7 linked regions of the Homo sapiens genome follow. The protein of the gene in region 1 purifies or fractionates together with the protein of each later gene. This does not show direct contact. Each region holds a gene or a part of one and is shown in the gene's direction. Other genes may lie near its edges. The genes, in order: TMEM126A, DIAPH3, ATAD3A, MIGA1, LRBA, SASS6 and APOOL.

Evidence for each region.
Region 2: the proteins of TMEM126A (region 1) and DIAPH3 purify together in Homo sapiens (affinity purification with mass spectrometry; one large-scale study listed by BioGRID and IntAct). This does not show direct contact.
Region 3: the proteins of TMEM126A (region 1) and ATAD3A purify together in Homo sapiens (tandem affinity purification; one large-scale study listed by IntAct). This does not show direct contact.
Region 4: the proteins of TMEM126A (region 1) and MIGA1 purify together in Homo sapiens (affinity purification with mass spectrometry; one large-scale study listed by BioGRID and IntAct). This does not show direct contact.
Region 5: the proteins of TMEM126A (region 1) and LRBA purify together in Homo sapiens (affinity purification with mass spectrometry; one large-scale study listed by BioGRID and IntAct). This does not show direct contact.
Region 6: the proteins of TMEM126A (region 1) and SASS6 purify together in Homo sapiens (affinity purification with mass spectrometry; one large-scale study listed by BioGRID and IntAct). This does not show direct contact.
Region 7: the proteins of TMEM126A (region 1) and APOOL purify together in Homo sapiens (co-immunoprecipitation; one large-scale study listed by IntAct). This does not show direct contact.

Annotation. Positions count from the first base shown.
Region 1 is NC_000011.10:85,646,523-85,650,766, forward strand, and holds the start of TMEM126A (transmembrane protein 126A), read left to right. Parts: upstream 1-1,444; 5' UTR 1,445-1,567; intron 1,568-3,726; 5' UTR 3,727-3,733; coding exon 3,734-3,819; intron 3,820-4,244. UniProt on the Homo sapiens protein: Protein required for the cotranslational protein quality control in the inner membrane of the mitochondria.
Region 2 is NC_000013.11:60,157,429-60,160,928, reverse strand, and holds part of DIAPH3 (protein diaphanous homolog 3), read left to right. Parts: intron 1-3,500. UniProt on the Homo sapiens protein: Actin nucleation and elongation factor required for the assembly of F-actin structures, such as actin cables and stress fibers. Required for cytokinesis, stress fiber formation and transcriptional activation of the serum response factor.
Region 3 is NC_000001.11:1,529,162-1,532,173, forward strand, and holds part of ATAD3A (ATPase family AAA domain-containing protein 3A), read left to right. Parts: intron 1-61; coding exon 62-170; intron 171-3,012. UniProt on the Homo sapiens protein: Essential for mitochondrial network organization, mitochondrial metabolism and cell growth at organism and cellular level. May play an important role in mitochondrial protein synthesis. May also participate in mitochondrial DNA replication.
Region 4 is NC_000001.11:77,786,149-77,789,648, forward strand, and holds part of MIGA1 (mitoguardin 1), read left to right. Parts: intron 1-3,500. UniProt on the Homo sapiens protein: Regulator of mitochondrial fusion: acts by forming homo- and heterodimers at the mitochondrial outer membrane and facilitating the formation of PLD6/MitoPLD dimers. May act by regulating phospholipid metabolism via PLD6/MitoPLD.
Region 5 is NC_000004.12:150,854,785-150,858,284, reverse strand, and holds part of LRBA (lipopolysaccharide-responsive and beige-like anchor protein), read left to right. Parts: intron 1-3,500. UniProt on the Homo sapiens protein: Involved in coupling signal transduction and vesicle trafficking to enable polarized secretion and/or membrane deposition of immune effector molecules. Involved in phagophore growth during mitophagy by regulating ATG9A trafficking to mitochondria.
Region 6 is NC_000001.11:100,105,431-100,108,930, reverse strand, and holds part of SASS6 (spindle assembly abnormal protein 6 homolog), read left to right. Parts: intron 1-926; coding exon 927-1,121; intron 1,122-1,213; coding exon 1,214-1,303; intron 1,304-1,377; coding exon 1,378-1,557; intron 1,558-1,937; coding exon 1,938-2,019; intron 2,020-3,027; coding exon 3,028-3,164; intron 3,165-3,500.
Region 7 is NC_000023.11:85,010,377-85,013,876, forward strand, and holds part of APOOL (MICOS complex subunit MIC27 precursor), read left to right. Parts: intron 1-3,500. UniProt on the Homo sapiens protein: Component of the MICOS complex, a large protein complex of the mitochondrial inner membrane that plays crucial roles in the maintenance of crista junctions, inner membrane architecture, and formation of contact sites to the outer membrane.

The DNA of each region.
Region 1 (4,244 bases):
TAGCCAGGCGTGGTGGCAGGAGCCTGTAGTCCCAGCTACTTGGGAGGCTGAGGCAGGAGAATGCTGTGAACCCAGGAGGCGGGGCTTGCAGTGAGCCGAAATCACACCACTACACTCCAGCCTGGGTGACAGAACGAGACTCAGTCTCAAAAACAAAAAAAAAAATCAGCTGATCAGCTGGGCGTGGTGGCACACGCCTGTAATCCCAGCTACTCTGGAGGCTGAAGCAGGAGAATCGCTTGAACCTGGAAGGCAGAAGTTGCAATGAGCTGAGATCAGGCCATTGCACTCCAGCCTGGCCGACGAGAGCAAAACTCTGTCTAAAAAATAAAAAATAAAAATAAAAAAAAGACTAGGAATTTTCCTTCTTGTACACCTTCGTGAAAATAAGTCTTTCTATTTGTGCAAGTTTAGAAACTGCAATTACAGACTTCTTGGCACTATGGAGCCTAATGGTCAAGCAACCCTGCAATGGAGAGACAGTATAAAAATTATCTGGACAATGCAACACTTTATCACTTGTTCAGAAATTTGAGAGGATGAGAATAATTAAGATTTCTGATAATGTGTTATGATCATGTATTTATTGCTACAGTTAGTTATATATTTTTTGGCACAATGTTTACCTGCTAATCTTAATGGAGTTAAGATAAAATTCAATTGTAGGCATTTTTCCCTTCTATTGGGTTAATTAGTCCAAGCGAACTGAGCAAAGGTTGCAGGGAGCCCCAGCATGGCTGAGGAAGACCTGGTGAGGCATCCACTGGCTGCTGGGAGGAGAGCATTAGAGGTACCTTCTGAACAGCACTGTCCAATAGAAATATAATGCAAGCCACATATATAATTCTAAATTTTCTAGTATTTATACTTAAAAAGCAAGAAGAAATAAGATGACTTTCACCCAACACTGCTTCCAAATAAGCAGTACTCTGGAGAACACGAGAAATCCTCAGAAAAATAAGCTGCAGCTCTGAGGTGCTGATTATGGTAGGGCAATCAATACAGATCAAAACATGGCACAGGGAGCTTAAGTTCCTAGGGAGAGTAGAAAATCGATAGAGCCAAGAAATAGCTCACCTTTGACTTATTTTTAACCTGAGTAGCTATCATATGCCAAGAGCTGTGCAGTTTTCATTTACCCCATGCCAAGAACGTAAGTAGGCTCTACTGACCAGGAAGTTAAGTAATATGCCCGAGGTACGTTTTCAATGGAAGAGGCTGACTGAGGGTCACCCAACTTATATCTCGAAATTTCACAATTTCTACAAGTTCTGTCCTGGGAGGCAAGAGTAGGTGAAACGAGCACACTCTACGCCAGGCAAACAAACCTCAACGCTTAGCCTCCCGGCACCTCCTAGGGCCGGAAGCTTCTCAGCCCAAAGCCGCTGCTGGCTGCAACCTCCGTCCCGCAGTCCAATTAGCAGCCGCGACCCGGCGCCCGCCCACGCCGCGTCACGAGTCAGCCAAAGATGGCTGCGCCCAGGTAATTTGAGCAAAGGCCACAGTGAACTCCGGCGTGGCTGAGGAAGGAGGAGGCACCCACAGGCTGCTGGGAGGAGAGCATAAGGTACTGGTATTCCGGGGGAGGGGGTGAAGTAAATGTCCCGGTGTCAGGAGAAGCACGACGCGGTGACACGCTAGCTACCAGCAGCGCTGCGCGTAAATGAGAGCAAGTAGAAGTGTAGTTAGCTCTTCCTGCTGTCTTTTCACTTTGCACTCTAGAAGGAAAGACCTTATATTTAAATTAACTCAGTAGAAAGGAGAAATGCCTGAGATTGAATTTAATCCCAGGTTTACTGTCAATTTACAAGGTGACCACGGCCAAATTTGATTTTCAGAGGTCCCACTTTACTTCTCTTTCAGATAGGCCCCACACTGCCTATCTCTCAGAGCTCTTCCAAGAATGACATGAGATAGGTAACACAAAAATCTTTCGAAATATTTGTAGTTTTTACAGGCGGCGTTGTCTTTGATAGATATTTGTTATTAATATCGGAGACAAAATGCCCACAGGGGCTGCCCAGTCAGCACTTATACTGAATTGAGTGACTTAATTGCCCTCAGTACAATATATACATACTAAATTTGATTATATATTTCACCACCCCATACACAAAATCATTCAGAGCTCCTGTACAGCAGAGATTGTGTCTTATCATCTTATCGTAGCCAAGGCCCTCAAAAATTTGACTACCAGAAACCTAGACATAAATTTCTAAGGCTGCTTTGTACTTATTAGGTTAGCTTTAAGTCTAGAGATATGGAATGTCAAGGTAATCAACATTTCCAAATGACCTCTTATCGATATAAAACAGGTAGCAATAAATATTTAAACGAGTGCCTGTAATGTTGTAGGAAATGAGAAAATCTGGTTTCATAAAAGCATGTTTTCCTTTGTTGTTATCCCTGAACTGTTTTTTTTTTTTTTTTTGTAGACCGAGTCTCGCTCTCACCCAGGCTGGAGTGCAGTGGCGAGATCTCGGCACACTGCAACCTCCACCTCCCAGGTTCAAGCGATTCTCCTGCCTCAGCCTCCCGAGTAGCTGGGATTACAGGCAGCTGCCGCCGTGCCTGGCTAATTTTTGTATTTTTAAAAGACAGGGAGTTTCACCATGTTGGCCAGGCTGGTCTCGAACTCCTGACCTCAGGTGATCCGTCTGCCTTGGCCTCCCAAGGTGCTGGGATTACAGGCGTGAGCCACTGCATCCAGCCTTTGTTTTTCTTAACTGTTACCCTGAAACCTGAGCCAAATCTTCATCATTCACCATTCCCTTCACATTTTCACCCTAACTAGTGCAGACATCAACAAACTACTGGCATGTAGGCCATATGCAGCCTATAGCTTGCCTTGGTACAGCCACCCAGCTAAGAATGATTTTTATGTTTTTATAGTTTTTTTAAAAACAAATATTCAACAAAGGCTGTATGTTACCTGCAAAGCCTACCACATTTACATCTGGCCCTTTAAAGTTTGCTGAGCCCTGATCTCAGGTATACCTAGAAATGAAATTGCTAGCTATGTGTGTCTTCTATCTGCTAAATAATACCAAATTCTTTCCCAAAGTGACTGTACAGTTTGGGTAAAGCTACCCCACAGAATGTACACAGAATGTAGTTTTAGCTACCCCGCATTCTTGCCAATAATTGGAATTGTCAGATTTTGATTTTAGCTAACCTATGGGTACCTATTGGTATCTCACTGTGGGTTGTTCCCCCAGTTATAATGAAGGTGAGCATATTTTCATGTTTATTGGCCATTTAACTTTCCTTTTTGTGAAGTGCCTGTTCAAATATTTTGTCAGTTTTTCCGTAGGGCTGCTTACCTTTTTCATGTTGATATGTAGTTCCATGTATGTTCTGGGTACTAACTACTCTTTTGTCAGTTCTATTGCATTTTCTCCCCCACTAGCTTATCTTTATGGTATATGTTGATAACCATAGGTTCTTAACTTCAATACTGTTAGTTTTATAAGTCTTTTATGTTTAGTGCTATTTGTGAATTGTTTAGGAAATACTTTCAAGGATTATGAAGATATTCTGTATTTCCTAAAAGCTTTATGTGTTGCTTTTCATGTTCTGGTTTCTGTTTCACTTAGATTTTTTTTTAATAATATGTATGCAATGATTTTTTTCAGATTAGCTCTACAGTATTATTTTTAGTCTTCAGAAGGTTTTTAAAATTCTTTGTATAAATTCTTGAGAAATGATATCTTCATGTTTTTTAAGGCTCAAAATGGAAAATCATAAATCCAATAATAAGGAAAACATAACAATTGTTGATATATCCAGAAAAATTAACCAGCTTCCAGAAGCAGAAAGGTAAGATCCCTTCTTAATTTAAAAACACCTTTTATCAGGTGGATTTTCACCATTGATTCATTATCTCAAGTTTATCTGGTTTGAGTATAAACAACATGGAATGTGAGAAGGAAATTGCCCTTTTCTTGCCTGGATGAGAGCGTTTAACCATTTTGCTCAACATCACATAGCTAATTGTGGAAGGTGAGGCTGGAACTCATGTCTTTGGACATACCTAATTGTATAATGTTTTGAGTTTTTCCATTAGGCTTGGAGTATAGTAAAATGTAAACATTTACAGACCCATTTAAATAACAAAACTTTAACTTTTAAAATGTCTTTTTTTTCCCAGTTCATTCTGTCAGTATGCTTACCAGTCTAAGAGTACCATAGAACACACATAGCAAGATAGAGAATGTCAGAGAAATAGGATCATGGCTAAAGAT
Region 2 (3,500 bases), on another chromosome or scaffold:
CACTTGTGAGTTGGGTAAAAGAGTTTGTAGCTTAGATATCTCTTCCCATAGATAAGTATAAATAGTAGAAATTAGTCTATTGTAATTGTATGATACTTTGGCTGTGCTACGAATCAATTGACTTTGGGATGCTTGTGAATTAACCAACTTGGTCTCATTTGAAAATATCTTAAGCCGTGAGCATTGAGATGGTAGGGATAGCTACTGGGGCATAGAAGAGAGATGGAGGAGGCTGAGAGGACAGGGCAAGTATCTGGGTGGAGACTTTGTGAAGGCAGATAAAATTCCGTAGGAATTAAACTTGGAACCTGCCCTAGGCCACACTCAATACCTGGACCTGAGTCCTATATCCTTTGTAGAACAGAACAGTTGTCCTACAGATTGTGGAAAGCCTTTCAGTAATACCTGTTTCTCATTACTCTTGGCAACACACAGGTAGTGGTGGCAGAGCAGGACATGTGGCTTCTAGAAGTGTCCATCTCTAGGATGTAGGTCAGTCCATTCAAAGGGAGCCTGTAAATTGGTGGTCCAAGTTGATGAAGGAGTTCTTTTTAATTAGGAGAGTCCTCTAAAAGTTCTCACAGACTTCAGTGTAAATCGTCTAATCGTTTCCATCAAATAGATTGTTAATTATTGATTGATTATGTCATTGTAGTACCTTCAGTGTTGGTTTTGAGATTTTTCTTTTCTTTTTTTTCTTTTTTTGAGACGGAGTCTTGCTCTGTCGCCCAGGCTGGAGTGCAGAGGCGTGATCTCGGCTCACTGCAAGCTCCGCCTCTCGGGTTCATGCCATTCTCCTGCCTCAGCCTCCCGAGTAGTTGGGACTACAGGTGCCCACCGCAACGCCCGGCTAATTTTTTGTATTTTTAGTGGAGACGGGGTTAACCGTGTTAACCAGGATGGTCTCGAACTCCTGACCTCGTGATCCGCCCACCTCGGCCTCCCAAAGTGCTGGGATTACAGGCGTGAGCCACCGCGCCTGGCCGGTTTTGAGATTTTTTCACCTTGTCCTTTAATTTCTGTATATTTACCATGTTTGGGCATTGATGGTAATACTAGTTAACCTTTCTGAGTGAGCCAAGCACTGTTCTAGGTGCGTTGTAATTATCAACTCCTTTAATTCTTAGAACAACCTTGTGAGGTAGGTAGTATTATTAATCTTGTTTGCCATAGGAGGAAACCAAGGTACACAGAGATTAAGCTGCCTAAAATCACACAGCTGCCAGTTCATGAGGCTGAGATTTGAATCTAGGCAAGCTGGCTTCAGAGTATACATTCTTTCTTTCTTTCTTTTTTTTTTTTTGTGAGACAAAGTCTCATTCTGTTGCCCAGACAGGAGTGCAGTGGCACAATCTTGGCTCACTGCAACCTCTACCTCCTGGGCTCAAGCAGTTCTCCTGCCTCAGCCTTCTAGTAACTGGGATTACAGGCACGTGTCACTACGCCCGGCTAATTTTGTATTTTTAGTAGAGATGAGGCTTCACCATGTTGGCCAGGCAGGTCTTGAACTCCTGACCTCAAGTGATCCACCCGCTTCGGCCTCCCAAAGTGCTGGGATTACAGGCGTGAGCCATCGCACCTGGCCTAGAATACACATTCTTAATCACTGTCCTGAATTCTCTCCCATAGCTGTTGGGAACTTTAATCTTTACTGCTTCTTTTCTCATCCAGGAACCATTAGCAATAATTAGTGATGCCTTTAATTAATATATAATATGAATATAGAATTGATTTTCTGATTATAGGCAGGCTGCGAGGTGAGAAGATATACAAGGTTGGAGAATTTTTGTTGATTGTACACGTAGTAGGAATTTGAGTACAGATGAAATCCCAGTAAGCTTAATGAGATTAGTGCATGTTTGCCAATTACTTTGGGTTATTTGGAAGCAGGTGTAGTAGGCCGAACAATGATCTTCTGAAAGGTAGACACTCCTTAATCCCTGGAACCTGTGAATGTTACCTTATATGGCAAAAAATGACTTTACAGGTTATTTGGTTTTTTTTTTTTTTTTTTTTTTTTTTAAGAGGGGCCAGGCAGGAGCAACAATTAAACCCAATGTATGACTGTGCTGTGGTGTAACTTCTGACAGCAGGATGTCTGAAAGAGATACTGCTCTTTGCTCTTCCAGCCCCTGAGAGACAGGGTATCTCATAGCCTCCAACCTCCTGCTGGGAGGATGAGGAACCATCCTTCAGTGCTTGCCTGCCTGAGTTTGGGCTGCCACTCTAGAACTCCCTGCTCAGCTTCCCAGCCAGTCCAGATTGTGGAATGTGGCTGCTTCTCCCCTTTTAGCTGGGGCAACCACAGGTGGTTCAAGCAACCTCTGCCTGGGCCTGTTGAACTCCACCAGGAGGAGGCAGCCCCAAAGTTCCACACATCTGGACATCTGGGGCCTTGGACAGTGATATGGTCAGCACATGGAGATTGAATCTATGTCTGAGGTGGATACACATTAACTAAGCTCACAAGCTTAATGAATAAGCTGTAACCCAACTCATTAATGTATACCAGCCAGTGTGTTGCAGCCAAATCCTTCCAGGCATGCAGGCCCCAGAACAAAGAGGATTAACAAAGAGCAGATGAAAACAATTCTAGCCAGTAAGCTAAAGGAGAAATCTGCTGGGGAATTCTGAGAAAGATGTCTTTGCTCTGTAAAAAGGAACTAACAAAAACTTTGCATCCAGTATTGGCTGAGATCTCATTGGACCACAGACCTCTCACATGACAAAATTATAAAAAGCAACTATTAAAACACTGGAGAGTGATCAAAAGACATGGCTATTGGAGACAATACTTGGAAGAAGGGACTAGCACTGGATAAGTTTGTCATTTTTTGTAGCTTTTTGCATAAGGGAAGCCCCTAATCAGGGTCATGTGGGGTGGTTAAAACTAGAATATAAGCCCACAGTTGTACTGGCATAAAAAACCAGAGGGCAGAGTTCTGGTGACCATATAGCTGATAAATGAGGAGAAAATCCTGGAGAGGAGAAGGAGCCACAAATGGGTAGCCCCAAATTCTGTGTGTAGAGTCCTCAAATTTCTGAACCCTACATGTATGGGACAGACTCCAAGCAGCACAGGTAGGGCTAACATATCTGAACTAAGATTTCAGGTCCCATCCAGCGGATGGGACAGTATGTGCAGTTTGAGAGTTCAGCCAAGTTAACTGCCTGCTAAAACAAACACAAAAAGCAATACTTCTCAGAAGAATAGAAGGAATTCAGAGTCCCTACACCATACATTCACAATGTTCAGGATACAGTGCAAAGGTATTTGACATTAGGAAAAAACAGGAAAATGTGACCCATACAAACAAGAAAAAGGAATCAATGGAGACCAGTCTCAAGATAACTCAGTTGTAAGCATTAATAGACAAGGATTTTAAAGCAGTTGTATAACCATATTTAAGAATATAAATGAAATATGCTCACAATGAATGAAATGATAGGAAACCTCTGTAGAGAAACAGAAACTATAAAAAGACCACAGTGGAAATTCT
Region 3 (3,012 bases), on another chromosome or scaffold:
CTCCACCTCGTGTTGTGGGAGCTGCTGCCTTGGCCGGCCCACTTGGGAACTCCTTCCCCAGGCGCCTGAAGCTGGCCCAGTTTGACTACGGGAGGAAGTGCTCGGAGGTCGCTCGGCTGACGGAGGGCATGTCGGGCCGGGAGATCGCTCAGCTGGCCGTGTCCTGGCAGGTGAGTCAGGCTCCGGCACGTCCACCCAGACGGGACCCCAGCTGCTGTGGAGATGCTCAGTTGCGCCAGGCCTGTCCCAGCACCGGTGTCACGCGGGAGCTTCTGTTGAGGGGTTTTCAGTGCACAGAGGTGACACAGGGCCCCCTGCCCCAGTCAGGCCACTCCACGAGGCATCGCGCACCTGCTCGTGCCCTCAGGAGGGTGGAGCCATGTCGGTGGCTGACAGTCACCCGGGGCTCTCTGGAGGCCAGTCTGGCATCGCCGTAGCCCGAGCTTTGCCAGGTGGGGCTGGAGGCTTCTGACTCTCACCTTGGCCAATAGGCACCTCCCTGTGTAAATGGTCGTTAGGACAGGCCCCATGTGAGTTGGGGGTTCGGGGTGGAGGGACATTGTGTTTTCTGGACCAAGTCTGTGGGCTTGGTCCTGCTTGACACATGGGTGGGAGTGGCCTCTGGTTGTCCCACAGCCAGTTGTTCTTCGGGGACACCCCTCCTGCAGCTCCGTGGCTGCTCCAGGGCTGAGGAGCCAGGACTCACAGGAGTGTGGGCGTGGCCATCCAGAAAGCTTTGGTCTTTGGGGGTTGCTGGAAAAGCAAAACCAGGTTGGTGGGGCAGAAGGCACCCTGGCCACGCACAGGCATCACCACCTCTGGGGTCCGCAGAGTCTGTGTAACAACCTGGTTCCTCAATCTAGCAGTGCTTTTGAATGAACGTGTGACAGCTTAATGAAGCAGCCGAGTACCTTGATTTGAATGTTGGAGCCGGGGTTCACAGGGGGCTGTATTAGTCAGTACAGGCTGGGTTATGCCACTGTGACAAAGAGCCCCAGATCTCAAACCCCGTCCTTGTGGGTCAGCTGAGGTCTCTGTTCCAGGCCATCCCCACTTGGAACCAGGTCTGTTTCCACAACTAAGAAAGCAGAGGCCGGGTATGGTGGTGGCTGACGCTTGTATTCCCAGCATTTGGGGAGGCCAAGTTAGATTATTTGAAGCCAGGGGTTTAGGACCAGCCTGGAAAGCAAGGCAAGACCCCATCTCTACAAAAAATGAAAAAATTAGCTGGACCTGGTGGCACATGCCTGTAATGCCAGCTGCTTGGGAGGCTGAGGTGGGAGGATCACTTGAGTCCAGGAGGTGGAGGCTGCAGTGAGCTGTGATTGCCACTGCACTCCAGCCTGGATTACAGAGCAAGACCCTGTCTTAAAAACTAAGAATAATGGCCGGGCGCGGTGGCTCACGCCTGTAATCCCAGCACTTTGGGAGGCCGAGGCGGGCGGATCACGAGGTCAGGAGATCGAGACCATCCCGGCTAAAACGGTGAAACCCCGTCTCTACTAAAAATACAAAAAATTAGCCGGGCGTAGTGGCGGGCGCCTGTAGTCCCAGCTACTTGGGAGGCTGAGGCAGGAGAATGGCATGAACCCGGGAGGCGGAGCTTGCAGTGAGCCGAGATCCCGCCACTGCACTCCAGCCTGGGCGACAGAGCGAGACTCCGTCTCAAAAAAAAAAAAAAAAAAAAAAAAAAACTAAGAATAATTTGGAACGAGTGCGGTGGCTCACTCCTGTAATCCCAGCACGTTGGGAGGCTGAAGTGAGAATATCATACACCTGAGGTCAGGAGTTTGAGAGCAGCCTGGCCAACAAGGCCAATCTCACCTCCACTAAAAATACAAAAATTACCCCGGCACATTTGTGGTGTATGCCTGTAGTCCCAGCTACTCAGGAGGCTGAGCCAGGAGAATCTCTTGAATCCAGGAGGCGGAGGATGCGGTGAGCTGAGATGGTGCCACTGCCCTCCAGCCTGAGCAATAGCGTGAGACTCCATCTTAAAAAAATAGTAATAGGCCAGGTGCAGTGGCTCACACCTGTAATCCTAGCACTTTGGGAGGCCAAGGCGGGCAGATCACGAGGTCAAGAGATGGAGACCATCTGGCCAAATGGTGAAACCCCATCTCTACTAAAAATACAAAAATTAGCTGGGTGTGGTGGCGCATGCCTGTAATCCCAGCTACTTGGGAGAATGAGGCAGGAGAATCACTTGAACCCGGGAGGCGGAGGTTGCAAAGAGCCGAGATTGCACCACTGCACTCCAGCCTGGCAACACAGTGAGACTCCATCCCAAAAAACGAAAACGAAAACTAAAAATAATAATAACTGGGGCTGGACGGGCGCGGTGGCTCATGCCTGTAATCCCAGCACTTTGGGAGGCCGAGATGGGCGGATCATGAAGTCAGGAAATCAAGACCATCCTGGCTAACACGGTGGAACCCCATCTCTAATAAAAAATACAAAAAAAAAATTAGCCAGATGTGGTGGCGGGTGCCTGTAGTCCCAGCTACTTGGGAGGCTGAGGCAGGAGAATGGCATGAACCCGGGAGGCAGAGCTTGCAGTGAGCCGAGATCGCACCACTGCACTCCAGCCTGGGCGACAGAGCAAGACTCTGTCTCAAAAATAAAAAAATAAAAAATAAAATAATAATTTGGGCTGGGCACGGTGGCTCACACCTGTAACCACAGCACTTTGGGAGGCTGAGGCAGTGGATCTCCTTGAGTTCAGGTGATCTGCCCCCTTTGTCCTCCCAAAGTGCTGGGATTACAGGTGTGAGCCACCATGCACGGCATCTTGAATTCTTTTCTCATAAAAGGGTTTTGAATTTGGTCGAATGCTTTTCCTGCATCAGATGAGAGGGTCATGTAGTTTCCTTCCTCCACTCGGCTAATATTGATTGATTTTTGTATGTTGAACATTTTTTATGTGGAACATTGATTGATTTTTGTACGTTGAACTATCCTTGCATTCCAGGAATAAATCCTGCTTGGTCAGGGTGTATAATTTTTTTATTA
Region 4 (3,500 bases), on another chromosome or scaffold:
AGCCACAGCCCAAGCTCTATGGTGGCCCCTTTCAACCATGGCTAGAGTGGCTGGGATGCAGGGCACCAAGTCCCTAGGCTGCACACAGCACGGGGACACTGGGCCTGGCCCCTGAAACCACTTTTTCCTCCTAGGCCTCCTGGCTGGTGATGGGAGGGGCTGCCGTGAAGACCTCTGACATGCCCTGGAGACATTTTCCCCATTATCTTGGGGATTAACATTTGGCTTCTCTTTACTTATGCAAATTTCTGCAGCCTGCTTGAACTTCTCAGAAAATGGAATTTTCTTTTCTATGGCATTGTCAGGTTGCAAATTTTCCAAACTTTTGTGCTCTGCATCCCTTATAAAACTGAATGCCTTTAACAGCACCCAAGTCACCTCTTGAATGCTTTGCTGCTTAGAGGTTTCTTCTGCTAGATACCCTAAATCATCTCTCTCAAGTTCAATGTTTCACAGATTTCTAGGTCAGGGGCAAAATGCCACCAGTCTCTTTGCTAAAATATAGTAAGAGTCACCTTTGTGCCAGTTCCCAATGAGTTCCTCATCTCCATCTGAGACCACCTCAGCCTCACTTTATTATTCATATCACTATCAGCATTTTGAGCAAAGCCATTCAACAAGACTCTAGGAAGTTCCAAACTTTCCCACATTTTCCTCTCTTCTTCTGAGCCCTCCAAACTATTTGAACCTCTGCCTGTTATCCCGTTCCAAAGTCACATCCACATTTTTGGGTATCTTTTCAGCAGCACCCCACTCTACTGGTACCAATTTACTGTATTAGTCCATTTTCATGCTGCTGATAAAGACATACCTGAGACTGGGCAATTTACAAAAGAAAGCTTTATTGGACTTACAGTTCCATGTAGCTGGGGAGGCCTCACAATCATGGCGGAAGGTGAAAGGCACGTCTCACATGGCAGCCGCAAGAGAGAGTGAGAGCCAAATGAAATGGGTTTCCCCTTATCAAACCATCAGATCTCGTGAGACTTATGCGCTGTCATGAGAACAGCAAGGGAAGGACTTGTCCCCATGATTCAATTACCTGCCACTGGGTCCCTCTCACAACACATGGGAATTCAAGATGAGATTTGGGTGGGGACACAGCCAAACCATATCAAAGGTAGTATATCCTTCTGGTTTTGATTTGTATTTCCCTGATGATGTTGAGCATCTTCTCATGTGCTTATTGACCATTTATATGTATCCTTTGAAGAAATGTATATTTTAGTCCTTTGCCCTTTTTTTTTTTTTTTGTAAGACAGAATCTCACTCTGTTGCATGGGCTGGAATGCAGTGGTGCAATCTCACTGCTCACTGCAGCCTCGGCCTCCTGGGTTCAAGCAATTCTCCCTGCCTTAGCCTCCTGAGTAGCTGAGATTACAGGCGCCTGCCACCATACCTGGCTAATTTTTGTATTTTTAATAGAGTCAGGGTTTTGCCATGCTGGCCAGGCTCGTCTGGAACTCCTGACCTCAGGTGATCTGCCCGCCTCCGCCTCCCAAAGTGTTGGGATTACAGGTGTGAGCCACTTGTGCCTGGCCCCTTTGCCCATTTTTGAAATTGTTTTGTTCTCGTGGAGTTTTAGTTCTCTGTATAGTCTGGATATTAATTCCTTGTTAGTTATATGATTTCCATATATTTCTCCAATTCTGTGAATTACTTTTCTTTTCTTTTTTTTTTTTTTTGAGATGGAGTCTCACTCTGTCACCCAAGCTGGAGTGTAGTGGTGCAGTCTTGGCTCACTGCAACCTCTGCCTCCTGGGTTCAAGCAATTCTCCTGCCTCAGCCTCCCGAGTAGCTGGTATTACAGGTGCCTGCCACCACACCTGGCTAATTTTTGTATTTTTTCTTTTTTTTAGACAGAGTCTCGCTTCTTCACCCAGGTTAGAGTGCAATGGCGCAATCTCGGCTCACTGCAACCTCCGCTCACTGCAACCTCCGCCTCCTGGGTTCAAGCAATTCTTCTGCCTCAGCTTCCCAAGTAGCTGGGATTATAGGCATGTGCCAGCATGCCTGGCTAATTTTTGTATTTTTAATAGAGATGGGGTTTCACCATGTTGGCCAGGCTGGTCTTGAACTCCTGACGTCAAGTGATCCGCCTGCCTTGGCCTCCCAAAGTGCTGGGATTATAGGCATGAGCCAGTGTACCTGGCCTAATTTTTGTATTTTTAGTAGAGACGGGGTTTCACTATGTTGGCTAGGCTGGTCTCGAACTCCTGACCTTAAGCGATCCACCCACCTTGGCCTCCAAAGTGCTGGGATTACAGGCATGAACCACGGTGCCCAACCCTGTGAATTACTTTTTTATTCTGTTGATGGTGTCTTTTGATGCACAAAATTTTAAAATTTTCATCAAGTCTTGTTTGTATCTTTTTTTTGTTGCCTGTGTCTTCATTGTCATATTTAAGAAGTCATTGCCAAATCCGATGTTGTGAAGCTTCTTAGGGTTTTAGGACTTATATTTAGGTCTTTGATCCATTTTGAGTTAATTTTTGTATGTATTATTAGGTAAGGGTCCAGTTTTCCCTATACCATTTGTTGAAAAAACTCTCCATTTCCGACTGAATGGTCTTGCACCCCTGTGGAAAATCATTTGATGATATATGTGAGGTTTTATTTCTGTGCCCTTGATGCCAGTACCTTACTGTTTTGATTACTGTCGCTTTATAGTGAGTTTTGAAATTAGGAAATGTGAGTCCTCCAGCTTTGTTCTTCTTTTTCAAGTTTATTTTGGCTATTCTAAGTCCCTTGAGATTCCGTATGACATTTAGGATGGGTTTTTCTATTTCTGCCAAAAAATCATTGGGATTTTGATAGAGACTGCATTGAATCTGTAGATTGCTTTGGGTAGTATTGACATCTTAACAATGTTAAGTCTTCTAATCTATGAACATGGGATGTGTTTCTGTTTATTCATGTTTTCTTTAATTTCTTTCAGCAACGTGTATATATATATATTTTTAAATTGTAGAAGTCTTTCACATCTTTGGTTAATTCCTAAGTATTGTATTCTTTTGGATAATAATCTAAATGGAATTGTGGGGGGCGGTTGCTTTTTTTTTTTTTTTTTTTTCTTTGAGACGAGGTCTTGCTTTGTTGCCCGGGCTGCAAATCCCGGCAGTAAGTCATGGCTCACTGCAGCTGAATCCTCCCAGGCTCAGGTGATCCTTCCACCTTAGCCTCCCAAGTAGCTTGTACTACAGGAGTGTACCAACACACCCAGCTAATTTTTTTTATTTTTTGTAGAGACAGGGTTTTACCATCTTGCCCAGGCTGGTCTCAAACTCCTGGATTCAAGCGATCCTCCCGTATTGGCCTCCCAAAGTGCTAGGATAATGGGTGTGAGCCACCGTGTTTGGCTTTCTCTCTCTTTCTCTTTTTTTAACCAGATTTTAAAATAACAAGATGGTTCTGTAGTATCCTTCACAGCCAATCAATGAAAGTTTTTTAAAAATCGTTTTGATCTTATGGATTTAATTGTATTTGATGTTTTAAACCAT
Region 5 (3,500 bases), on another chromosome or scaffold:
CCTTGGCTCAAGTGATCCTCTCCCTTCAGCCTCTCCAGTAGCTGGGACTGCAGGCATGTACCTTTGTTCCTGGCTAAAAGTATTCTTAGCTTTAACATTTTGAAACCAAATAGCATTTATTACTTTAAAAAATTTAAAATAATAATAAGTTTTCATTACAGGAAATCTTGAACCCAGCAGAAATGCATACACACAGAAAACAAAAATTATCCATTATCCAAACACCTATGTATAACTTATTAACATTTTAGTGCGAGACCTTTTAGTCTTCTCTTCTATACATGAATCTATACATAACATATAATTATTTGCTAACAAAATGTGATCGTATTTTTACTATTTTAGAGTATTATTTAATGATATGCTTCTTACATGAATTTTAATGCCTGCATATTATATGACATTATGGAGAAGTAAAGAGCATAAGATTCAGCTTTGATATAACATTTGAATGTTATCAGACCACTTAAAATTCTAGGAAGGAGTGACCGTGTAAATGATTCAAGTTTTCTTTTTATATTCTGGCATTCTCCAAAATTGTATTTAGAAAAATTGATGGAAGAGAGATTTAAAAAATCTATTGATTTATATTATAATCATACTTTATCTGTTCCTTATCATTGACCAATGATGAGCCTGGTTCAATACTGTAACCCTTATTTTGTAGGATAAATTCCTGTAAGTGGAATTTCCAGAGGAAGGAGTCTGTACATGTTTTAAAAAGTTTTTAGTAGATATTGCTAAATTGCCCTCTAAAAATTTGTACCAGTTTATACGCTAGATTTGCATGAAAGCATCTGTTTAGACTGTTTTTAAGAAATTAAAATTGATCAAAATGACTGTTTTAAAAATGAAAAGATTAGAAGTTATTTGCTGCAATATTCTTTTGTCAGTGTTCTTCCTATCTTTATAAATGGGGATTGTACTACCAACCTTTAGAATTGCTCTTAATTATGTCAGTAATGCTTGATTTTACCATTATATCTGTTACCTATACCATTGTTATACATCAGAGTCTTTATAAAAGATCTCATTAATGTGGTGGCAATCATTTTGACTTATGCTCATTGATAATACATATGGGAAGATCCACCTGTTTTTAAAGATATATCTTATTTATCAAAGGTTGGTAACTTAATCAGAAGTTAACATCATATTTAGCTGGTATTTTCATATGAAAACAGACACTGAAAAAGATGCCTTTGCTTAAAAACAAAGTCAGTTGCTAAACATTGCCTAACAGTTTAAAATGTCTAAATTTTACAGGTTATACGGTTTTAATGTATAGATTAAAAAGATAATATTAACATCTGGATGTATTGTGTTTATCTTTTATCTACTAATTAGTAAATTTGAGTGCCAATTAAGTTGAAAATAATGGCAAAAGAAATGTTATAGTCATTAGCTCACAAGTATCTTTAACTAGTAGTTTATAGAAGTGCTTTCCAAACATTACAAACAGCTATAGATTAGCTATCAAATGATTGTGAAGATTAATGACTAGTCTTTTAGCTGGGTAATTTAGAACAATATCTGGCAATTAATTGGAAATTATCAGTTTTAAAGTCACAAATATCTTAAGGAAAACAGCATCCAAAAAGATAATACTGATAGTTGTTCAATTGCAATTTAGCTTTTAGACCATTGGATGAATTAAATTAAGGGCAAATTTAAAAACCAAATGACTTTAGAATTTTAAAAGCATTTCAGATTCTGAAGGTAAATGCTTTTCTATCTGTGGTTTTATACTCTGACTATTAATCAAGTATGAAGCGAGAATAAATACCTTTTCAGGATTTGAGATCTCAAAACATTTATATACATCCTTTCTTAAGAAGGCACTGCAGGATATTGCACAAAAGGAGAGAATAATACAAAGAGGAAGAAATGAAATATAAGAAACAAGAGACAACATAGAAGAGAGATGAAGGGGATCTCCAGGACTGTAGAAAGGGAGATCCCAATAGCAGCTATGTAGTAGGCAGATGACAGTCCATCTGGACTGGAGCAGTTTCACTCAGGAGAGGTGGACCTGTATTCTTATTAGGAGTACTTAGCTTGCTTGCCTTCATCATGTGCTGATTAAATTCCTGTTTTCCTGTCTAATGTGAATCACCTGAAGATTCTCACTTCACTCCACAAAGACATGCTGTGCTTCGACCTACTTCTTAGGGTAGAGGTTCACCATGGTGAGCTTAGAATTGAAAAATATAAAGTATTTCATGCCAATACACTCTACCTGGCACACACTGCCTCTGATAGGTTCTCCAGTTCTCTTGACCTCTATATTTCCTGTATTTCCTAATGACTTGCCTATAAGACTTCCCAGAAATGGCTTTACATATTCTCTCAAATAAGCTGAAGCCCTGCTGCAACTCACAGATTCTGTGTATCTTGTCTTTTCTTGGGAGCTCAGGTGTGGCAGTATTGCTCTTTAAAATACAATTGGCTAGGTTTGTGTTAGACTTAGTTTTTTAAACTAAACATAATGGGTATGTTTAGTATATAGATAGTAAAACTATCTTTTAAAATTATCTCCCAAAGCTCTGACCTCCAGGTAAAACTATTTATAAACAGTGAACGATAGAAATACCAGGATAGTGATTTTTTTCTGATTGTAGTGGAGAAATAGGGAGTACAGTTTGGGCAGGGCACATAGGGGAATTGTGAGGTACTGGTAACGTTTTACTTCTTGACATGGGTGGTAGGCATGTGAGATTAAAAAAAATTGTTTCTTAACCTGTACATATAAATTACATATACTCATGTTTATTGATCCATTGTATAATACAAATTCTAAAAACCTTTAATATAAATAAAATCAAAGCAAATGATTATTGAAAACTAAAGTCATTCTATAACACAGGCTATTGTAGAAATAAATGGCCTATTTTCAAAATGACTGTGAGGTTGGTAATATGTAACTTGCTTTCTTTTGACAATGATAATTGTTTGTTGGTGGAGAAATGCTCTCTCTAAAGTCAGTTTTCCAAAAAGTAGGCTAACCAGTCTTATTTTTTTGGAGACAGAGTCTCACTCTGTCACCCAGGGTGGAGTGCAGTGGTGCTATTTTGGCTCACTGCAACCTCTGCCTCCTGGGTTGGGTTCAAGCAATTTTCCTGCCTCAGCTTCCTGAGTAGCTGGGATTACAGGTGTGTGCCACCATGCCCAGCTAATGTTTGTGTTTTTAGTAGAGACAATGTTTCACCATGTTGGCCAGGCTGATCTCAAACTCCTGACCTCAGGTGATCTGCCCACCTTGGACTCCTAAAGTGCTGGGATTACAGGCGTGAGCCACCGTGCCCAGCCACTGATCTTTTAAAAAGGGAAATCAGATTGTCTTCCCTACACTCTTAATTCTCAAATGGCTCTCTCAGAATAAAATACAGTCTTTAATACAGTCTATAATGTTCTACAATCATAATCTAGCTCGTGGCCACATCTTTGACCTCATTTTCTTTAGTTCTCAGTTTATTGCTTTATTGTTATTCATCATACAT
Region 6 (3,500 bases), on another chromosome or scaffold:
TGTCCTAAAAATAACAATTGCTACCATTTATTGAGTTTTACTGTGTGCCAGCCAAAATGCTAGGCAATTTACGTAAGGATTTTTATGAAGGTTAAATGAAATAATTTATTAAGTATTTGTTATTTCTGTTTTACAAATGAGGGAACTGAGATTTAATTTAGGGAGTTTCAGTAATTACCAAGATCACACAGTAGAAGAGCCAGGATTTGAATTTTGTTTGATACTAAAGTTTGTGCTCCTAAAACCACTATAGTCACAATACTGTATAATTATTTTTGGAAACTTTGGTTAAGAACTAAAACTATCTAGGAATATTGTATCCTGGGCTTTCATATACCAGCAGCATTTGGGTTGATATTAGCTGATTGGGAAGAGATCTATTGTAGATTTTTTAAAAATCTATTTTTAATGAACAATTATTGTTTATTTTGCTTGAAAGAGTGAACAGAGAGATCTGGAAATGTTAACATTTATTGACATAGAAAGATATTTGTAATACGTGAAGAAGGTAGATTATAAACTGCAGAGTATCAACCTTTAAAAAACAATCTGTACATGTAAGCAACAAAGAAAAATGTTAAGTCTACATTGTGGCGGCTCTCACCCGTGGTTACCCTTGGAATCAGTTGTGGAGACATCAGAAAATTATTGTTAAAAGTTTTAAAGTTACTGTAATTTATTCATAAATTAGAATTATTTTCCCTTGATATGATTGAATCAGATAGTAGAATATTTTACAATTATATTCCAGATATATGCTACTATACCATTAGAAAGACATTTATGCTTTTAAAAAAAAATCTGTACTAAAACTTTAAAATTATTAAAGACTTTTTTTTAATATGTTAGACATCTTAATTATAAATAACCAGATGAGGCAGCTTCCTTTTTTCATAATGCTTAATTTCTTTCTTTTCCCATTCTAGGAGCTACAGCGGACTAAGCAAGAAGTCCTCTCTTTGCGAAGAGAGAATTCTACACTAGATGTTGAATGCCACGAGAAAGAAAAGCACGTTAATCAGCTACAAACAAAAGTGGCAGTTTTAGAACAGGAAATCAAGGATAAGGACCAGCTTGTTTTAAGAACAAAAGAGGCATTTGATACAATCCAGGAACAAAAGGTCTACTTTTAAATTTTTCTCAGAAATTGATAATCATATTTATAAGTAAACACAAATGCCCTAATTATTCATGTTTTTAAAAAATATATCAGGTGGTTTTAGAAGAAAATGGTGAGAAAAATCAAGTACAACTAGGAAAGCTTGAAGCTACAATAAAATCATTATCTGCAGAACTTCTGAAGGTTTGTTTTAAAAATTTTATAGACTAGTATTTCATTAAATTACATAGAAATATACATATGAAGCTCTTTTATAGGCAAATGAAATTATCAAGAAGTTACAAGGGGATCTGAAAACTTTAATGGGTAAGTTGAAATTGAAGAATACAGTTACTATTCAGCAAGAAAAACTCTTGGCTGAGAAGGAGGAAAAATTACAAAAGGAACAAAAGGAATTACAAGATGTTGGACAGTCTCTTCGAATTAAAGAGCAAGAGGTAGTTAATATTTTAAATTTTTATGTTGTAACTAAATTTTTTCCTCGTTTTAAAAATTTATGCTTTGTTACATTAACAAATGGCTTTGGTCTTGTTTTTTTTTTTAACAAAAGAACATGACTAGATTGAGTAGATGGTAATAACCTGTTTCAGTTTGGAAAGTTAGTTATCATGATTCAGATACCTTGATTGCTCATGTATGTCTATGTTTGTATACACATGTAAATATTTTATTACATAATTGAGCTAATTCCTTTATTCTCATTTAATAATAGTAGTAGTAACCATTTATGTAATTATTTAGTTAATAATAATACATTCTTCAGTTTTTATTTAACCTTTATTTTGCTTGACTTATTGTGATGATTGATATATTTCAGGTATGCAAATTACAAGAACAATTAGAAGCTACAGTTAAAAAACTTGAAGAAAGCAAACAACTTCTAAAAAATAATGAAAAGTGTAAGTATGTTACGTGTTAATGTAAATGAGGTTTGTAGTTTTATTCTTTTATTTTTTTGAGACACGGTCTCACTCTGTCACCGAGGCTGGAGTGCAGTGGCATGATCTCAGCTCACTGCAGCCTCCACCACTTTGGTTCAAGTTATCCTCCCGCCTCAGCCCCCCAAGTAGCTGGGACTAAGGTGTGCACCACCACACTCAGCTAATTTTGTGGGTTTTTTTTGTAGAGACGAGATTTTATCATGTTGCCCAGGCTGGTCTTGAACTCCTGAGCTCAAGTGATCCACCCGCCTTGGCCTCCCAGATTGCTGCGTTTAGGTTTACAGGTGTTAGCCATCGTGCTCGGCTGTAGTTTTATTCTTAACCTGAAAATTTTATTCGAATTCATAAAAGTAGACATTGGCCAATATATAAGTAATTTCTGCTTTAAATATACTGTCTTAATGCCTTTTCTATAATAAATTTATATCATCTGCCCAGTAAAAGAGTTATCATCTTTATAAAGAAAACCATATCCCATAGGTCAGTAACCCACAATTAAAACTGTTGAAAATGTTGACTGTAATTTATTGTTTAAATTCTTCATTATTCCTTTTTTTAATAGCTGTGTTTACCTAATAATAACAATATGAATTGTTTGAAAACAAAACATAAAAATAAGATTTTAACTAACATTTTCTCAGTTTATACTACTGGGTATCATACATAAGATTGTGAATTTTAAGTAAACTGTAAGATATTCTAGAAGTGAAATCTTTCAAAGAGTTGCTTGACTAGCAGAAATATGTGCTTCGGAAAGTAATACAATAAGGAGTCCTATGTGGCAGCTTCTAAAATAAGAAACTTTAATGACAAAAATTTAGGTGAACCTATATTGCTCTCCTGTGATGTCAGGTAGTTGTAAAAACTTATAATTTAAAAATCTTAATATAATTTTTAAATGTTTAAGATGATTAGAAAAATAAACAGTCAATATTCTTTACCTTGCTTCTTGTTCTTTTATTTAAGTAATCACGTGGTTAAATAAAGAACTAAATGAAAATCAGCTAGTGAGAAAGCAAGATGTATTGGGACCTTCTACTACTCCGCCTGCACATTCCAGCAGCAACACAATCAGAAGTGGAATTTCTCCTAACCTGAATGTGGTAAGATTTAAAACAAGATGTGAGTGATCTTAGTGAATTTCCTGAAACAAAAGTATTTCCAGATTGTTAGGAAGTTTCCATGATTTAAGGTGCTGATACCAATACAAAGTGGAGTCCTACAATTGCACTGAAATAGAGTTTAAGTTGCCCCTGGAAGTGGAACAAAGGCACACTTGCTCTGAACAGAGGCTGAGTTTCAAGAGCACATTTCTTTTTTTTGTTTTGTTTTGTTTTTTTTTTGAGATGGAGTCTCGCTCTGTCGCTCAGGCTGGAGTGCAGTGGCGCGATCTCGGCTCACTGCAAGCTCCGCCTCCCGGGTTCACACCATTCTCCTGC
Region 7 (3,500 bases), on another chromosome or scaffold:
TTTCAGGAACAGGTGGTTTTAGGTTAAATGGGTGAGTTCTTTAGTGGTGATTTCTGAGATTTTGGTGCACCTGTCACCTGAGCAGTTTACACTGTCTCCAGTGTGCAGTATTTTGTCCCTTACCCCCTCCCAGTATTCCCAAGTCCCCAAAGTGCATTATCTTAATTTTATGCCTTTGCATCCTGATAGCTTAGCCCCCACTTATTAGTGAAAACATGATAGTTGGTTTTCAATACCTGAGTTACTTCACTTGGAATAATGTTCTCCAACTTCATCTGGGTTGCTGCAAATGCCATTATTTTCTTCCTTTTTATGTCTGAGTACTATTCCATGTTGTATACATACCACATTTTCTTGATCCACTCATTGGTTGATGGGCATTTGGGTTGGTTACATATTTTCACAATTGTAAATTGTGCTGCTGTAAACATGCATGTGCAAGTGACTTTTTTATATAATGACTTTTTTTCTTTGGGTAAATACCCAGTAGTGGGGTTGCTGGATCAAATAGTAGTTCTACTTTTAGTTCTTTAATGAATCTCCATACTGTTTTCCATAGTGGTTGTACTAGCTTACATTCTCACCAGCAGTGTAAAAGTGTTCCCTTTTCACCACATCCACACCAACATCTATTATTTTTTTATTTTTAATTATGGCCATTCTTGCAGGAGTGAGATGGTATCGTATTGTGGTTTTAATTTCCATTTCCCAGATAATTAGTGATGTTAAGCATTTTTTCATATGTTTGTTGGACATTTGCATATTTTGAGAATTGTCTATTCATGACCTTCACCTACTTTTTGATGCAAATTATTTGTTCTTTTCTTGATTTGTTTGAGTTCCTTGTAGATACTGGATATTAGTCCTTTGTCAGATGCATAGTTTATGAGTATTTTCTCCCACTCTGTTGGTTGTCTGTTTTCTCTGCTATTTTGTTTGCTGTGTAGAAACTTTTTAGTTTAATTAAGTCCCATCTATTTATTTTTGTTTTTGTTGAATTTGCTTTTGGGTTCTTGGTCATGAACTACTCTTTGCCTAAGCCAATGTCTAGAAGAGTTTTTCTGATGTTATCTTCTGGAATTTTTATGGTTTCAGGTCTTAGATTTAAGTCTTTGATCCATGTTGAGTTGATTTTTGTATAAGGTGAGAGATAAGGATCCAGTTTAATTCTTCTACATGTGGCTTGCCAGTTATTCCAACATGATTTGTTGAACAGGGTGTGTGTGCTTTTCCCACTCTGTTTTTATTTGCTTTGCCTAAGATCAATTGGCTGTAAGTATTTGGCTTTATTTCTTGGTTCTCTACTGTGTTCCATTGGTCTACGTGCCTACTTTTATACCAGTACCATGTTTTGGTAACTGTAGCCTAGTTTGTAGTATAGTTTGAAGTTGGGTAATACGATGCCTTCAGATTTGTTCTTTTTGCTTAGTATTACTTCAGCTATGTGGGCTCTTTTTTGGTTCCATATGAATTTAAGGATTGTTTTCTTCTAGTTCTGTGGAGAATGATGATGATATTTTGATGTGAATTGTATTGAATCCGTAGATCACTTTTGGCAGTATGGTCATTTTCACAATATTGATTGTACCCATCCATGAGCATGGGATATGATTCCATTTGTTTGTGTCATCTATAATTTCTTTCAGTAGTGTTTTATAGTTTTCTTGTAGAGATCTTCCACCTCCTGAAGTTTTTTTGTTTGTTTATTTTTTTGTTTCTGTTTTGCAGCTGTCGTAAAAGGGATTGAATTATTGATTTGATTCTCAGCTTGATCGTTGTTGGTGTATAGCAGTCCTACTGATTTGTGTACATTGATTTTGTAACCTGAGACTTTACTGAATCATTTGTTAGATCTAGGAGCTTTTTGGATGAGTTCTTAGACTTTTCTAGGTATACTATCATATCATTGGTGAACAGCAGTGGTTTGACTTCCTCTTTTCTGATTTGGGTGCCCTTTATTTCTTTCTCTTGTCTGATTTCTTTGGCTAGGACTTCCAGTATCATGTTGAATAGAAGTGGTGACAGTGGTTATCCTTGTGTTGTTTCAGGTCTCATTGGAATGCTTTCAGTTTTTCCCCATTTAGTATGGTATTGGCTGTGGGTTTGTCATAAATGGCTTTTATTACCTTGAGATCTGTCCCTTCTATGCCAGTTTTGCAGAAGGTTTTTATCATGAAGGGAGCCAGGAGTTTTTCAAATGCTTTTTCTGCTTCTGTTGAGGTGATCTTATGATCTTATGATTTTTAGTTTTAATTCCGTTTATGTGATGTATCACGTTTATTGACCTGTGTATGTTAAACCATCCCTGCCTCCCTGGTATGAAACCCACTTGCTCATCTTTTTGATATGCTGTTTGGATTCAGTTAGCTAGTATTTTGTTGAGGATTTTTGCATCTGTGTTCATCAGGGATATTGGTCTGTAGTTTTCTTTTTTTTGTATGTCCTTTCCTGGTTTTGGTATTTGGGTAATACTGGCTTCATAGAATGATCTAGGGAGGACTCCCTCTTTCTTTATTTTTTGTAATAGTTTCAGTAGGATTGGTACCAATTCTTCTTTGAGTGTCTGATACAGCTTAGCTGTGAATCCATCTGGTCCTGGAATCTGTTTTTGTTGGCAATTTTTAAATTACTGTTTCGATTTCGCTATTGGTCTGTTCAGTTTCTGTTTCTTCCTTATTTAATCTAGGAGGATTGTGTATTTCTGGGAATGTATCCATCTATGCTAGGTTTTCTAGTTTGTGTGCACAAAGGTGTTCTTAGTAGCCTTCAATGATCTTTTGCATTTCTATGGTATCAGTTGTAATATCTCCCTTTTCATTTCTACGTGAGCTGATTTGGATATTCTCTCTTCTTTAATCTCTCTAATGGTCAATCAGTTTTCTTAATCGTTTCAAATAAACAGATCCTTGTTTTATTTATCTCTTGTATTTTTTTGTTTCAATTTTATTTGGTCCTGCTCTGATTTTGTTATTTCTTTTCTTCTAGCTTTAGGTTTAGTTTGACCTTGTTTCTCCAGTTCCTAGAGGTGTGATATTTGATTGTCAATATTTGGGCTCTTTCACACTTCTTGATGTAGGCATTTAATACCATGAACTTTCCTCTTAGCACTACTTTTGCTGTATCCCAGAGGTTTTGATAAGTTGTGTTACTGTTATTCAGGTCAAAGACTTTTTAAATTTCCATCTTAATTTCATTGTTGGCCCAAAGATCATTCATTAGTAGATTATTTAATTTACATGTATTTGTATAGTTTTGAGGGTTCCCTTTGGAGTTATTTCAGTTTTATTCTACAGTGGTCTGAAAAGATGCTTAATATGATTTTGATTTTCTTAAATTTATTCAGAAGTGTTTTGTGTCCTATCATGTGGTCTGTCTTGGAGAATGTTCCATGTCCTGATGAAAAGAATGTATATTCTGCAGTTTTGGGGTAATAAGTTCTATAAATATCTAAGTCCATTTGTTCTAGGATGTAGTTTAAATCCATTGTTTCTTTGTTGACT